Regions from separate parts of the Homo sapiens genome. Here region 2 is linked to region 1. The links come from fine-mapping of genetic effects on gene expression. Tissue or cell type: thyroid. Region 1 holds a variant in brackets; the other region holds the start of a gene. All regions are shown on one strand. Distances are from middle to middle.

Region 1 (8,104 bases):
TACAAGATATCAATTTAAAAAAAAAGCACCTGAAAATGTTCTGTGCTAAGCAGGTCTATGTAAACCTACCCTCAAAGTCTGAGGAAGCTGAGGGGCCAGAGGAGGAGGCAACAAATCCAGTTTCTCAGCGGGGAAGAAAACAAAAAACAAAACAAAAATGTAATAGGCCCTTAAAAACACAAGCCATGCCTCAGGCTGCAGGCGAAGAGATGGGGTGTCCCCTCTCTGTTACCCCCATCCCAGACCCAGGGCTTATATATTAGAGGGAATTTGCCTCACGGCAGTATTTATGGTAAGTATGTGTTTACATTAACATCAAGGTAAACAATCTAATGGCAGGATTTGTGGTACATGAAAGTAGAAATCTTACAGGCATTCCCGGGACTAGCGTTGAAGAAGTCAACGTGGCAGATTAGCATCAAAGATGGAGCTGCTTTAGCCTCAGCACCGACTAGACTAAAATAGTCAAGAAGTTAACCGTGTTTTTAAAGGAAGCACTAGCCTAGCCTAAAAATGTTTGTGACTGCTGGAGATTTTAAATGATCCTTGTAATGACATCTTGTAATTATAGATATTTATGCGATACAATTTGATGTTTTGATATTATATACTGTATAACGATCCAATCAGGGTTTTTAATGTGTCACCTCAGGCACTTATTTCTTTGCAGCGAGAACATCCAAAAGCCTCTATTTTAGCTGTTTTATAATATTCAGTACCTTACCATTAATCACCGTCACCTGACTAAAAGAACACCAGAATTTACTTCTATCTAATTGAAACCTGGTACCTGTTGGCCAGCTTCTCCCCATTTTCCCCTTTCCTTCTCCCCTCCCCAGTCCTTAGTTCACTTATTCCTCCCCTCCCCGCCGCCCACCATCACTGTGGAGCAGCAACCAGTCAGAGAATGCTGTTCATCCCCCAAGGAGGTTGTGAGGTCAAATCACAAACTGTCTTTCCTCTATGCTCATTCCACAATAATCAACACTGAGGGCTTCTGTGGCCAGATGTGTAGGGGTTTTTCCCTACGTGCCAAGCAAGTAAATCAACATGCAGTGACATCATCTGGGTATCCTCCAATCCAGTTCAACTCCAACACTCTCTACCTGGAGACAGTGTCAGACACCACATGCTGAGGGCTCAGTCCCACAAGACTGTCCCCAATTCTGATGCCAGTTGAAAGCCTAAGGTTGTGTTACATGCTTCTGACCAACTAGCTGTAAATTGGGGATCCCACAACCTCCTCTTTGAGTCTGATTTGCCAGGATGGCTTACAGAACTCAGGGAAACACTTAGGTTTACTGGTTTATTAGAAAGAATATTACAGGCCAGGTGCAGTGGCTCACGCCTGTAATCCCAGCACTTTGGGAGGCCAAGGCGGGTGGATCACCTGAGGTCAGGAGTTCGAGACCAACCTGGCCAACATGGTGAAACCCCGTCTCTACTAAAAATACAAAAACATTAGCCAGGCATAGCAGTGCACACCTGTAACCCCAGCTACTCAGGAGGCTGAGGCAGGAGAACCACTTGAGCCCGGGAGGTGGAGGTTGCAGTGAGCTGAGATCACACCACTGTACTCCAGCCTGGGTGACACAGCAAGATGCCATCTCAAAAAAAAAAAAAAAAAAGAATATTACAAAGGATACAGATAAAAAGATACATAGAGATGTATGGAAGGGGTATGGAGATTCCATGCCCTCCCTAAGGACACTGCATTCCAGGAACCTCCACGTATTCAGCTATCCAGAAGTTCTCCATACTTTTAGAGAGGTATGGAGAATCCACCCCCTTGGGCCTTTTACAGAGACTTCGTTTGATAGGCATGACTGAAAGATGGATAGCCATGTGGAACTGGCTGGACAAAAAAGGTATGATCTAATAAATACTAATAGACTGAGTGGGGAAACCCAGCAAGGCCTGTCTGTTCAGATTCTTCCTGGCCTCTCTGTGCAGCATTCCTTCCTCCTGGGTATGGGGCAGGACCCTTTCTTTACATCTTATGGCCTATAATCAGACAAGATAGATCAGAGAATTTCTTTATAGTCAGCTTCAAGACCGAAAGGCTGGGGGACATTCCTGCCTTGGAAAGAAAACGAGCAAGTGAATGGAGGGCAAGAGAAAGAGAGATTCTGTTTTCTAAGGCCTAAAGGGCCCTAACATTATAACAAGGGCTATGGGAGTTATGAGCCAGGAAATGTGGATGAAAACCTGTGTGTATTCTTTCAAATATGTCATATATATCATAATATATAACAGATCATCTCATTTATGCCCTCTTCAGATGATACCCAAGAAAGTAAAGAAAAAACAAAGCAGAACCAAAGGCCATGGAGAACACAGACAGGGAACAACTCGTGGGAGCTGACCCAGGGCTGCCGATTCAAGAAACATACCGTCTCTGCAAGAGTGGAGGTCTCGGAACATCCGCCCACCTTTAGTCTACTTCAGGATTGCTATGGACCAGCAAATGCTGTATATCTCCCACTTCTCCCATTTCCACTGGGAGCATTTAATGCTGTTATCCCAGCCTTATTCAACGATTGCATTTTTAGAGAGAGAACACGAATAGCTCATTTTCCTAGTTCGCTGGTTTCAAAATCAAGAGGAGCCGTACTCCACATCAGTGAGACTGTGCCTCATTCACTAAAGTAGACACCATCATGACATCCTAAACTTTGAGCTGAATACTGAAACTGGATGGGACGCTGGGGCTCCCTAGGAAATGGGAGGGGGATGGGTATATTGCATGGGAAGGAGGGCTGAATTGAATATTTGGTTACCAGATGGGTCGACTGTTAGACTTATCAGTGATGTTCACTAAGTATTCTAGTTCTCTCTCATTCTGGGGACAGGGTAGGGCTGCACTTCCTGTTCCCCTTGTAGTTGGTAGAGACTGAATGACTAGTTCTGACCAATGAATCATGAGCAGAAGTGACATATGTCACTTCTGAGCCTGAGTACGTAATTGTCAGTGTGAGACCCTCGAGAGCTCCCTTTCCCTTTACAATGACTGGGAACGTTCTACAGAGTGGCTGCTCCTTTAGCCTGGGGCCTGCAGGAAGGATGCAAAGCAGAGCCTCCAGCCAACAGTGCACTGATGGACAAGTTGGATGAGCAAAAACCCCACAGGCCAGGCTCAGTGGCTCACCCTACAATCCCGGCACGGCGGGAGGCTGAGGGGGTTGGATTGTTTGAGCTCAGAAGTTCAAGACTAGCTTGAGCAACAAAGTAAAACCTGTCTCTACGAAAACAAAACAAAACAAACATTAACCGGGTATGCACCTAGAGTCCCAGCTATTTGG[A/G]AGGCTGAGAGGGGAGGATCACTTGAACCTCAGAAGCAGACGTTGCAGTGAGCTGAGATCATGCCACTTCTCTCCAGCCTGAGCAACAGAGCAAAGCTGTCTCAAAAACAAAAAAGCAAAAATGTCTTTGTCATTTTAAGCCACTGAAATTTTTAGCTTGTAGGTTTCTACAGCATAACCTAGCCCATCCTAATACTAGCGCAGAAAGGACTAAAAATCAAGCATCTTCCTAACAGCTACTCCAAAACTCTTTCTACAGTGATTTAATCCATAATAAGGGAGAGTCTGCTCAGTTTTTAGGGAATTTCAATGAAGTTGATTCCACAATACCCTTTGGGAGCTAAAAGTTTTATAAATCTTAGCATCTTCACTGATTGTCTCACACTGTAGTTCAGGCCTTTTTGTGTGGATATCCCTGAAGACTGATTAAACCACAAAATCTCCCCACCACCCCCAACCTTCTGGAGCCTAAAGAGGTTCCTGTTCATGTGCAAGCCACTGTATTCGGTTTCTAGGGCTGCAGGAACAAAGCGCCACAGACTGGGCAGCCTCACAACAGTGTATGCCTCACAGTTCTGCAGGATGGGTCTCAGAGCAAGGTTTCTGGAGGGTCGGTTCCTTCCAAGACCACACAAAAAAAGGATCTGTTCAAGCCTATTTAGGTTGTACATGGCCATCTTTCTCAGGTATATTCACATCTTTCCATGTATGTTTGTATCCAAATTTCTTTTTTTTTTTTTGAGACAGAGTTTCACTCGTCACCCAGTGTGGAGTGCAATGGCCTCATTTCAGCTCACTGCAACCTCCTCCTCCTGGGTTCAAGCAATTCTCCTGCCTCAGCTGCCCAAGTAGCTAGGATTACAGGCACCCACCATCACGCCTGGCTAATTTTTGTATTTTTAGTAGAGACAGGGTTTCACCATGTTGGCCAGGCTGGTCACGAACTCCTCAGGTGATCCGCCCACCTTGGCCTCCCAAAGGTCTGGGATTACAGGCGTGAGCCACCGTGCCCCGCCAAATTTCCTCTTCTTAGAGGGCCACCAGTCATACCGGATCAGGGCCCACTCTATTTATCTCATGTTAATGGAAGTACTTCTTTAAAGACCCTATCTCCAAATATAGTCACATTCTAAGGTCCTGCAAGGTTAGGACTTCAACATAGGAATTTTGGTGGGGAGCACACAATTCAGCCCATAATAGCCACCCTCCAAAAGGTACTGTTTGGGGTCTTCAAGAGCTTGCGAAGATATCTGTATATAGTCAGTTCGTTTGCAGGATGCATTTGGTCGAAGAAAGATGAAAAGGATTGAGAAAATCTTAGCTCTCTTCTCATCTATGTGGTCTTATCCTATCACAAGCTTCTGTAGCAGGGGAGGCCACCCTTTTGAGGCCCCTTTTGCCCAGTATGTAGCAGAGAGCAGGACAGAAAGGGGTGTCATGACCTTGAACCCACAAAACTGAGCTGAACACACCTGATTCCATGACAATAAATGAATACACATTTGGAATCAATTAATATAAATTGTTGTCACTTCCATTCAACAGACACCTTGGAGCGCTCGGCTTATCACTCTTAAGCATCACGTTACTTACTCAACAGTTCTAAGAAGCTGAGAGTATTAGAGTTCATATTTTATAGACGAAAAGACGAAAGCTGAGGTCTTCTGGCCAGGATCAAAGCTTTTAGGAAAAGGTGCTGGGAAGTTTCCAGAGGGGCTCCTTGGAGGGTGGGATTGTATCTTACTCTAAGAGACACACAGGCCTCAGTGGTAAAGAACGTAGGCCTTGAGCTGGTCTAGCTCTTTGAACAAGTCACCTGCCATCACTGTGCCTGTTTCTTCATCTGTAAAACAGAAAATTTTATATTATTTAGTGGGGTTGTGAATATTGGAAGGGATAATATATGCAAATCCTTCAGCACAGTGCCCAACAGAGTGCTAAGTATCTGCTGTTATTCCCAGCTTGTCCAGCGCCCAGCACATAAATGAGCTCCATCTATCTATGCTGAATAAGGAAATGGACACTTGAATGGGGAAAGGTGGTTGGCTAAATGGCAGTAACTAGGGCTGCAAGATGGAGGAAAAGATTTTTGTTGTCGCTTCAATTGATTTTGCTTAGTTTAGGAGAGATATAGATGTGTAGTAAGCAAATAAATGAACAAGATGCTGCGCGGGGCTGGAGTCCAGCTAGGATGCTATGGTAGGGTGCGGCTGCTTCTTGGGCCACTGCACATACCCTGCAGGCCAGGGCACAGGGTCTAATGAGGGAAGGCTGGTGTGGGTGGCACCTCTGCACCACACTGAGTGGTGCTGGTTTCTCACTTGTTTTCTGTTGATGAGCACTTTGCACTGTAAAATACCCTAACTGCACAGTGCTACACGGACTCTTAAAAGTCACAGGGGGCCGGGCACAGTGGCTCATACCTGTAATCCCAACACTTTGGGAGGCCAAGGTGGGCAGATCATGAGGTCAGGAGACTGAGACCATTCTGGCCAACATGGTGAAACCTCATCTCCACTAGAACTACGAAAATTAGCTGGGCACGGTGGCACACACCTGGAGTCCCAGCTACTCAGGAGGCTGAGGCATGAGAATCACTTGAACCTGGGAGGTGGAGGTTGCAATGAGCCAAGATCATGCCACTGCACTCCAGCCTAGCAACAGAGGGAGACTCCAACAAAAAAAAAGTCACAGAGACTGGGTGTGGTGGCTTACACCTGTAATCCCAGCTCCTTGGGAGGCCAAGACAGGAGGATTGCTTGATTCCAGGAGTTTGACACCAGCCTGGGCAACATAGTATAACTTCATCTCTACAAAAAATTTTAAAATTAGCCAGGCATGGTGGCACATGCCTGTAGTCCCAGCTATTTGGATGGCTGAAGTGGAACGATTGCCTGAGCCCTGGTTGAGACTGCAGTGAGCCGTGATGGTGCCACTGCACTTCAGCCTCGGCAACAGAGTGAGACCTTGGCCAAAAAAAAAAAAAAAAAAAAAAAAAAAAAAAAAAAAAAAAAAAAAAAAAAAAGTCACAGGGAAAGCCTGTCAGTGCTGCTGCTGCTGCAGCAACATTTCTGAGTTCAGTAATTAATGCATGTTAAGATCCTCCTCAATCTGTTCACATGCCTGACAATCTAATGAAGTATCAGCTATAGCCCATTTGTCAAAACCCTAAAGTCTTGTTCTCTTAATCTCCTTCATGCTAAAATTTCCCACTAAAGAAAGCAAGAGGCTTTAGCTGAAAGCAGGGCATAAGGCCCACTCAATGCAGTGTGGTCTCTGCTAAATGACTATTGGTTTGCGAGGACTACTGTAACAAAATTACTACAAACTGGGTGACTTAAAACAATATAAATTGTCTCACAGCTCTGGAGGCTGGAAGTCCAAAATCAAGGTGCTGGCAGCACTAAGCTCTCTTTGAAGAATATAAGAGAGCCCTTGTCTCCACTCACTTCCAGTGGTGGCTAGCAACCCTGGCATTCCTTGGTGTGTAGATACATCACTGCAAACTCTACCTGTCTTCATCCGGTCCTCTTCCCTCTGTGTCTGGGTCTTCACATGGTGTTGTCCCCTGTGTGTCTGTGTCCACATTCTCCCTCTTCATATAAGGATACCAGGAATTGAATTAGCCCCCTCTAATCCAGTATGACATCAATTTGTTTTTTTTGGCTTTTTTGGACAGGATCTCTGTCACCCAGGCTAGAGTGCAGTGGGTCATGGCTCACTGCAGCCTTGACCTCCAGGGCTCAAGCAATCCTCCCACCTCAGCCCCTTGAATAGCTGAGTCTACAGGGGCACGCCACCACATCAGGATAATTTTTGTATTTTTGGTAGGGAGGAGTTTTGCCATGTTGCCCAGGCTGGTCTCCAACTCCTAGGCTCAAGCAATCTGCCCGCCTCAGCCTCCCAAAGTGCTGGGATTATAGGCATGAGCCACTGTGCCCAGCCTGACCTCACTTTAAATTGACTAATTACATCTACAAAGATCCTATTTCCAAATGAGATCACATTCTGAGGTTGCAGGTGAACATGAATTTGGGGGTGGGGGGTGATATGACAATTGTCAACCCAGGACAGTGACTAAATCTTCCTGTGTGAGAGCTGGGGGCATGCTCCAAAGTGGCTGATTAGCTTACTCTCCTGAGGATACACTTACCTTAGCCCCTGGTCTGCTCCCAGCTAATGATAGTTGAGCACTTACTCTGGGCCAGGCCGTACCTAATTTTACACGCAGTAGCTCATTATATTACCACAAAAATCTTAAGAGGCTCTCACCATCCTCATTTTAAAAAAGAGGACACTAAAGGCTCTGAGATGTTAAATGAACTACAGAGGCCCCCATAGGTGAACCAAACTACCTCTGTGCCCATGTTCTTAACCCACATGCTCTGCTGCGTATGGTGGGAAACTACGGTATCAGAGCATTTAGGTCTGAACCAAGTGTGCTTCTTTTCTGCTTATTTTGCTTTTTGTAGTTTTAGGAAATGTAAAACTAAAATATGTAGGGGAAATACTACATCAATGTTCACATTTTTACATTTATTTTTTGAGACGGAGTCTCACTCCGTCGCCCAGGCTGGAGTGCAACGGCGCGATCTTGGCTCACTGCAACCTCTGCCTCCCAGGTTCGGTTTCAAGCTATTCTCCTGCCTCAGCCTCCCAAGTAGCTGGGACTACAGGTGCACACCTCCACGCCCAGCTAGTTTTTGTATTTTTAGTAGACAGGGGTCTCACCACATTGGCCAGGCTAGTCTTGAACTCCTGACATCAAATGATCCACCCGCCTCGGCCTCCCAAAGTGCTGG
Region 2 (8,104 bases), 190 kb after region 1:
TGAAGGACCTGGCTTCTCCCGCCCGGTCGGCTTAGGGCCAGCGAGGTCACAGGCCGTTCTGCTCTCCCTGTTTGTCCCCAAAGGCCTCGGCACGTGGGGATCTGGAGCAGGCCTCAGGCTGCGACCCGTCTCTTCCCCTACCAAAATTATGTGGGAACAGCGGTCCAGGACCTTCCCCTGTTCAGCGGTATCCCCGGGCCGGTGACCCCGGGGTTCAGTCGTCTCCCCGACCCCAAGCGGCCTCTGCTTTCCACCCCTCGCCCCGGAGGGCGGCTTCGGGGATCTCATGGGGGGTTTGCATGAGTCTGTCCCCAGCCAACTGAGGGAGAACCAAGACATTATTGCCATCTAAAGAAATTGATTGCTGGATGCCCCACTGCCTGGCTGGACATTCCCCCAACTCCTTTCAATTTGAAGCGGGCCGAAGAGCGAGGTCGAGAAGCTGACCAGGTGAGAGCTGAGTAGTTCACGCACAGGAAGAGGGGACAAGTTTTTCTGTTTTCACAGGGGTTCCTCACGCTCAGGCTTCCAGCGTCTGCCTGCACTGACATCATCGTGGTCGCGATGAAAACAGTGAAATAGGAACCCTGACCTCCCCTTCCATGAGAATCCAGCAGAGAATTTGCTGATGTGTTATACATCCGGGACAATCGGAAACTGCCGTTTTGATTGAGTATTAGTTGGGATGAGGAGCACATACCAGGACTCCCAGATCTGGAGTCCTCACTTTCTCAGCAAGGGCACCTGCATCCTGAGCTTTTACATGTACACACACCCAGCGATTGTGTGTGCCGAGAAAGACCCACATACGCACATTGTTTTTTCCTCTTCCACGATTATCTGCCAGAATTCTACTCAGTTAATTGCGGTTTGAGAACACACCATCCACAGGAGAGCACCAATGGATCTAGTCTAGTGAGGTTACATTTACTTGTAATCCTCCCCCTTCCCTTTCCCATTTCTTTGATGATTTTTCCCATAAGTGTGTAAGCTACTGGGACTTAGTAGAAGCAGGCCGCTCCTCCTAAATGTGATTTGGACCATATGCTTTCTACATTCATTCCCGCTTCGGCTTTTCTTCTCTGCACTAACTGCTAACACGTTATAGTCACCTTGAAATTTCCTCTGCTATTTTCCAATTAAAAGCTTAATAGCCCTGGAAACGGAGTTCATGTGGTGAAGTTTACCACAGCCCCTTGTTCTGAAAGGCTTTCTGCTGGGATCCCATTATGTGCTTGAATAAACCCTTTCTGCAAACAGAAATGGGACTCGGGGTTGTCAGGTGTTGGGTTACAATAGACTTTGAGGCAGGGGACATTTTACCAACATAAATACAAACCTGTCCCTATAGGGAGATGTTGTCAAATACTGGGATATGGAAAACATTCCCATCAAATATGAGAAAAGGATTACTGCACTATATCAAATGAGTATTTAGATCTCAGCCCCCGATGTGCACCGGAGTGAAACGGGCCCCCGGGACCAAATGCCAGACTGTTTGAGTGGCAACGAGATAGGGTGGCTAGGTGACCGACGGGGGAAAAGGGGTCGCCTTGGTAGTGAAAGTGCCCCCACAAACCTGGTGCAGAGCTCTTCTGCTTTCCTTTTAAAAATTTATTCATACTCAAGTTCTTTATACTTCCTCGTTTCACTGTTTGAAGAAAATCGGAAGAAATTTGGTTTTGAAAAAAGTCGTTGGTCCCCACGTTTCCAAGAGATCCGGAGGTTTCAGCGCAATAGTTTTCAGTTAAGGTGTCATTTGAGGCCCTCTATATCGCAGCACGTTAAATGACTCGCGTCCAGCTCCCCATTTCCTAGCCTCGGGCCTACAGGGCTGGGGGCGACCTCTGCCTCCCGTCCCCAGAGCTTACAAAATTCCTTCCAGTTGTATTTTAGGGCTTGTTTTCCTAGAGAAGGTTGAGACTAGAGGAAGGATTAAAGTGGTGGGGGAAGGGGCAAGACCGAGGGGTCCCTACCCCACGCGGCTTTGGAGGATGGCCTCCCAGGGTTAGCACTCGAATGCTAGAGCTTCTTGTCCACACTCTACCAGGTCAGTGTCCCGCGATCCCCACCTCCCGGACGCGTATGAAACGGGAACAGCTAAGGGCTTCAAGGGAAACACACAACTGGGGTTCGGTTTTCAACCCTCCTCTCCGCAAATCAGCCTTCTGGGCAGAGGGTTGGCTGCTAGAACGCCTGGAGGTGCTTCCCTTGAATTCATGGCAAACACCAGAGGAAAGTTTTCAGGTTGCTTGCTTACTTCCAGGGCAGTACAGAGAAAAGCGGCCTCCCCGAGGGGACAAGGGCCTCTGTGCCCATGAGGGGTCGGACATTGCAGCGGACTTGCCTACGCTCTCATCTAGCATTTGATTCCCCACCAGGAGATGGGCTTGGTGCACGCTCTCAGAAGCGCATCCACCGAAGGCTCTGGAACTGCCCCGCTTCGCATAGAGCTATTGTGCTGCCCTGCAGTGTATCCACTTGTTTTGTTTGTTTGTTTGTTTTTTGGTTTTTGCTTGTTTGCTGATGGGCAGTGGGGAGGTGCGAGGGTGGAGGGCCTTCTTTGTGCATATATAGCGATAGTCTGCACTAGGCCAAGCCCGCTACTCCTGGGAGAATGGGAACACGCAAATAATCTAAACAAAGTTTTCTGCTGTCATCTTGTGAAGGACCCTCTCCCCCAAGACATCTATGACTGGGGTCTATGGGTTAAGGAGGTGAAAAAGTGGCCCCATCCCATATCCATAACTGAATCACAGAATCCGTGGGGATTTGAACTGAGTGGCTGGCGCAAGACCTCCGTTTGCTTCCAGTAGCTGCTGGGAGCGAGGGAAGAGGATATCGGTAACTTTGGGGGCGCCAATGTGGCTTCTGTGTCTGCCCCTTGAAAGTTTATACCCGGCGCTTAACAAATCCTTTACAGGAGCACGTACGTCCCTGACCTTTCAGGATACTGTTTTATATTAAAACATGGACAGGAGGGTAGAAAAGTAAAATTCGCCTGCAAAATGGCTTGTCATCCTTGGGCCGGCAGATCTCCAAAACCATTTTCTTCTAAAGCAACAAAAGAGAAAAAAATACGTTCTAAAAGGAAATTACGAAAAGAGCCTAACTTTCCTAAACCAACATCACTTCACTCCCCTATCCTAAACTCCACCCAGGTCCGGGGTGCAACCGCAACACTCCCGTAGGTTCGAGTTCTCCCGGAGCTGAGCTTCTGCGGCCAAATGTCGGGATAAAAGCGGCCTTGGGCTCGGAAAAACGCGGCCAGATCTGGACTGGAGGGAGGAGAAGAGAGAGAAGCGGAGCGGCCACCTCACTCGCTTACAGGCACCCCCACCCTCACTCCCGCTGGTCCTCCCCTTCTCCGCCCCGCGAGCACCGCCGCGTTCTGGAGCGCCGCAGTCTCCAGCCGCGGGCTGGGGTAGCGGAGAGGGCTTGGAGGAGGGGGCCGCGAGCGCCCCCGCGAGAGTGGCCTGGCTGCAGGTGGCAAGGAAGGTGAAGTGCAGGCACCCGAGGGGCGCAAAGGAGGAGGAAGGCGTGGGGCGGGGAGTGCAAGGAGACAGGGACCCCAGGGGCGGGGGTGGCGGTGGGAAGGAGGAGGGGTTGGGGGAGGGCGGCGGAGGTGTTGGGTCCGGCCGGCTCACGAGGGAGCTGCAGAAGAGCTGGCTCAGACCTTAATCAGAGCTGTCGCCGGCTCCTTGCAGCCGCCGCAGCGCCTCCGCGAAGGAGGACGTGCCGACCCGGCTGCGCGCCCAAGGCAGAGGCCCGCGTCGGCGTTGGCTGGGCGTGAGCTGGGAGGCCGAGCTGTGAGCGCGAAGGGAGCTGGAGAGACGACTGCGGCACCTCCGGCCGCCCCGGAGCACACACGACCACCGGGGCTGCGGGACCAAGGGCCGCGTCGCCCGGAGGCCGCCCCTGAGCGGGCCTCGCAGCCCCGCCGTCCAGCGCTCCCTGGCCCTCTCCCGCAGCCAGGCTGCCAACTCATTCGGGAGCCCGGGGCATGAACGGCTACGGCTCCCCCTACCTGTACATGGGCGGCCCGGTGTCGCAGCCGCCACGGGCGCCCCTGCAGCGCACGCCCAAGTGCGCGCGCTGCCGCAACCATGGCGTCCTGTCCTGGCTCAAGGGCCACAAGCGTTACTGCCGCTTCAAGGACTGCACCTGCGAGAAGTGCATCCTCATCATCGAGCGGCAGCGGGTCATGGCTGCGCAGGTGGCGCTGCGCCGGCAGCAGGCCAACGAGAGCTTGGAGAGCCTCATCCCCGACTCGCTGCGCGCTCTGCCAGGGCCCCCGCCGCCGGGGGACGCCGTCGCCGCCCCGCAGCCGCCGCCAGCCTCTCAGCCGTCGCAGCCGCAGCCGCCGCGCCCTGCTGCCGAGTTGGCCGCGGCCGCCGCGCTGCGTTGGACTGCCGAGCCGCAGCCCGGGGCTCTGCAGGCGCAGCTCGCCAAGCCAGGTAAGAGCGTCTGAGGTGCGGGAGTTTGGCCGGGCGCGGGGGCAACTTCGGAGTGCCAGCTGCAGCTCCACTTGGGAGGACTGGAGGCAAAGTTTTGGGACGTGGGCCTGTCGGGGCTTTCCTTCCTACTCTCCGCCAGGCCGGGGCTTCCTCTCCCGGGAGAAGCCGGCTGAGTCTGGACCCAGCGCGAGTGGCACTCGCGCCCGCAGGGAAGGCGCCTCCGGGCAGCCAAACGACGGGACTGTGCGTCAGTATCGCCAGGTGCCTTCCCAGGTTGAAGGGTTCGGAACGTGTCAGATTGAGCAGGGAGACAACGGAGTTGAGACAGGACAAAATTAAAACCCACGTGCGCACACTCACTACGGTGGGGTCGGATTTTCCTGGCTGCAGGCTTTAGAGGTCCTTGCCATTTGGGGGTTGGAATGGGTAGGTAGGTGTAGGGAAGGAGCCAAGGCCAACACTCGGCTGAGTCGAGCTGGCTGTGCTTCTCGGCCGGCCCGGCCCTGCCCAGGGCCCAGGAAAATTTGAGTGAGGACAAGTATCCAACTCTCAGAACCCTGGCCTTTCTAGCTTTGCTCCGTGGCCTCCAGACTCTTGTAACTGGTGAAATAAGTTCCATTTAGCAATGATAGTAAAAGGGTCCGGAAAGGCTTGTGAGCTGATAGCGGGAAAAGAATCTGATGCGCCCAGAATTCACTCCTTTGCAGAACCTCCTAGATCCTTTAACACTGTTCCCCAGGCTGCCCTCAGCTGTCTTCGTGGTTTAAAGGAATACAAAAAATCTGATCCCCCACCACCCATCCGTTTCCATCCAGGCCTCCTGAGCTTGGCAGGCCTGAGTTGAGTCTCTTAGTCTCTCTCTTCCTGGGGAATTTCTAGCTTGCGGTTCTGCCCAGCTCAAGAGCTCTTTTGATGGCTCTTGGAATTCAGTGGATATGTGTTTGGTGTTTCTCCTTAACTGGGGCAAATGTGCAAAGGAACACAGCCCACCTTCTCCCGGAAGGGGGCATGCTGGAATTAGGAGTGGGAAGGTCCAGAGCCCTCCTGTAAGTAGAACTGTGGCAAAACTGGTACCTACACTGACCTGCCAACTCCCTAAAGACGGTACCCCTAGCTTCGGAGAAAGGCTTTCAGGAGCCCAGGACTGCTTTGTCTGGATCCTGTGGAGCTGAGGAAGTGAGGCGGACTCACCTGTTTCATGGTGAGTCAACGGGTGACTGGCAGGTGGAGTTCTGCTGCCCTGTCTTTCCGCCATGCTTTCCAGGCCTGAAGCTCTGAGAACAGCCTGTGTGACAGTAGAGCTGGGAATTTTAAAGCCTGAAGAGAGTTTGCCGAACTTGGATTTTGTGGATATTTAATCCAAGTTAGCATATAAACGTTTCTCAGAAATGATCGCCAGTTGTCTCTCTTTTGTCTGTCTCATCTTTTTATATTTATGGATTTGTCACAGACGAAGAGGAGGGAGGAGAAAAAGGTTTTATTATTTTTCTCCCATAGGTTTGAACAAATAACAAGGAAGAGTTTGGTCTCAGCTCTAGAATTGGATTTGTACCAATATATTTTCTTAATTTTTTTCCATTTCCAGCTTCTCTGGTTCCGTTTCCCCCAGGACTAGGGCAGAGGCCTGAGTTAACATCAGAGGTTAACTCAGCAGCACTCCTGTGATCGGGCATTGGGTTCTGTGGTTTTTATCCAAGGAGATGCCTTTCACATCCTGTGTTCTTCAGAGTATTCTTTGGGATAGCTAAAGTTCATGATTTCTAAAGAGTCACAAAACTAAAAACACAACCCCAGGAGGAGGAGGAGTGAGGGCAGGCAGGAAGGCAGAGTAGGCAGCGGCAGCAGGATACGTGCTTTGGGAGAATAGAAAAAGGAAACGGATCTCAACTGGACAAAGCAGAGCTGTGCTGTTTTACTCCTACTTAGCACTCAGGGATAGCCTGAGCCTTCCGAATTGAAAACAAGTAATTGCAAAGGAGAATAGGATTTATCACAAGGCGAGGTCCAAGTGAGGACTTTGGGGGACCGAGGCATCAGGGACCAAGGGCTCAGTTTCCAGCTGGTCACCCCCACCCCCCCATACCTTGTACATTGATGTACACAACTTTTGTTTTCTTCTTTCACTTGCTGTGACCCCATAATTCCCATTTTTTTAAAAAAAAGCAAATCACCACTCTGATGGGGAGTGGGGAGAAAGGTAGGAAAATAATAGATGATTGTTTAGGAAGACAGGCATACAAGTGGATCCATTCTACACAGTGCTTGTAGAAATAAAGTCTATTTGGGGTTTAAGCTGAAGAAAACTGCTCACTGAGACTGCCTGTTGCTATAGGTATTATACCCTTTTTGCAGTTGTTCTAATAATGTATTTGTGTATAACATTCCATATGTATTTAGAAGCATATCAGAACTACTCCTGAATAAGTGCAGAGAGTAAGCAAAACTAAGTGCAGAGAGTAAGCAGAACTCTATTGGAATGGTAGTTCCACATGTACATTAAGTATACAGACCATCAGAAATCTTTCAATATCTGCTGGCAATGTAGATCTATTACTTTGTGAACTTTGACTTTGAAATGTGGTTAGTCTTTTTGCGGGGCAAAGGACCTCTTTAATACATAAGCTGTGAAGAGAGATTTTTTTTTCTTGTAAACAGAAGCACATGGAGTCTTTCCTCTCCAGAAATCTTTGAGAAAAGCACATGCCTTAAGGAAGAGTATGTTTGCTGTGAATCACTGGAGGAAAACCACCCCGTTGAGGGAGTGACATATTCACATCAAAACTCAGTTTTGTAACTGGAAGAATTTTTTCTCAAATTCTGCTTTAGATTCTTTAAAGGAATGGGGTTATTTTATCTAATGGTGTAGTATGTTGAATATCCCTTTCAATGTGTGGTGTTTTTAAGGAGAATTTTCATATTCTAGTGGTTTTTACTTCTAGTTATGAAGTATTCTTTTTTCTTTTTGAATGTAGATTTCTCCTTCTCTTTGATTACCATCTACGATGGACCTGGAATTAATTATTAGATTTTGATTGAGCTGAACATTTTGATTTAAGCTATGTATAGATATATTAAGCTATATATATCTATTAAAAGCTATATATATAGCTTAAATTTAAATTCTAATTTAAGCTATATATGTGTGTGTATATATATATGTATATATACATACACTATTTAATTCATTTATTCTTCTCCTAAATTCCCTCTATGTTCTTCTCATACTCCTTCTCCCCATGAAAATACAGGAGGCATGAAGATCTTCCAACTGTTAGTGTATCTGAATCAGCAGTTTTAATCAGCCTAGCCAGCCTTTCAGGACGTGGGCTCAAGAGCTGAGGGAAGTTAAGGGTCACTGCCAAGGTGAAAAGCTAAAGTTACATTCTTGTGTTGTGGCTCCCTTCCCTACCCCCAACTTTTCCTCCAGGGGAGTGTCCTCGGACACCTTAGACTGTGGTGCGATGAGAAGAAAGATCTGTGGCTGTAGACTCTTCCTAGGTCTCCATCTGCCATCAAAATGAATATGTACACACATTCTTTTAAATGCTTTTAAAAGGAAAAAGAAATCGAAAACATGGTTAGGAATAAGAGAGAAGGATCAAATGGGAAAGTAGGATCTTCTTTCCTGTTTATTTCTTAGGGGGTGG

Evidence for each region. PIP is the estimated chance that this variant, and not a neighbour inherited with it, causes the effect. A credible set is the group of variants that fine-mapping cannot tell apart.
Region 2: DMRT3 starts here. The variant in region 1 is the best candidate, but not a certain one, in a credible set for the expression of DMRT3 in thyroid (GTEx, PIP 0.84).

What each region holds. Positions count from the first base shown.
Region 1 is chr9:783,331-791,434 of GRCh38, forward strand. No RefSeq gene overlaps it. Among named protein-coding and RNA genes, the nearest start is that of DMRT1, 54 kb to the right of the region's middle. The variant A/G (reference allele first, on the strand shown) is at 3,303.
Region 2 is chr9:972,999-981,102 of GRCh38, forward strand. It overlaps DMRT3 (doublesex and mab-3 related transcription factor 3), which reads left to right and starts at 3,657. Exons shown (of 2, transcript NM_021240.4): 1 at 3,657-4,457. The coding sequence starts at 4,004. RefSeq lists enhancers at 437-2,290, 2,823-3,324, 3,325-3,824.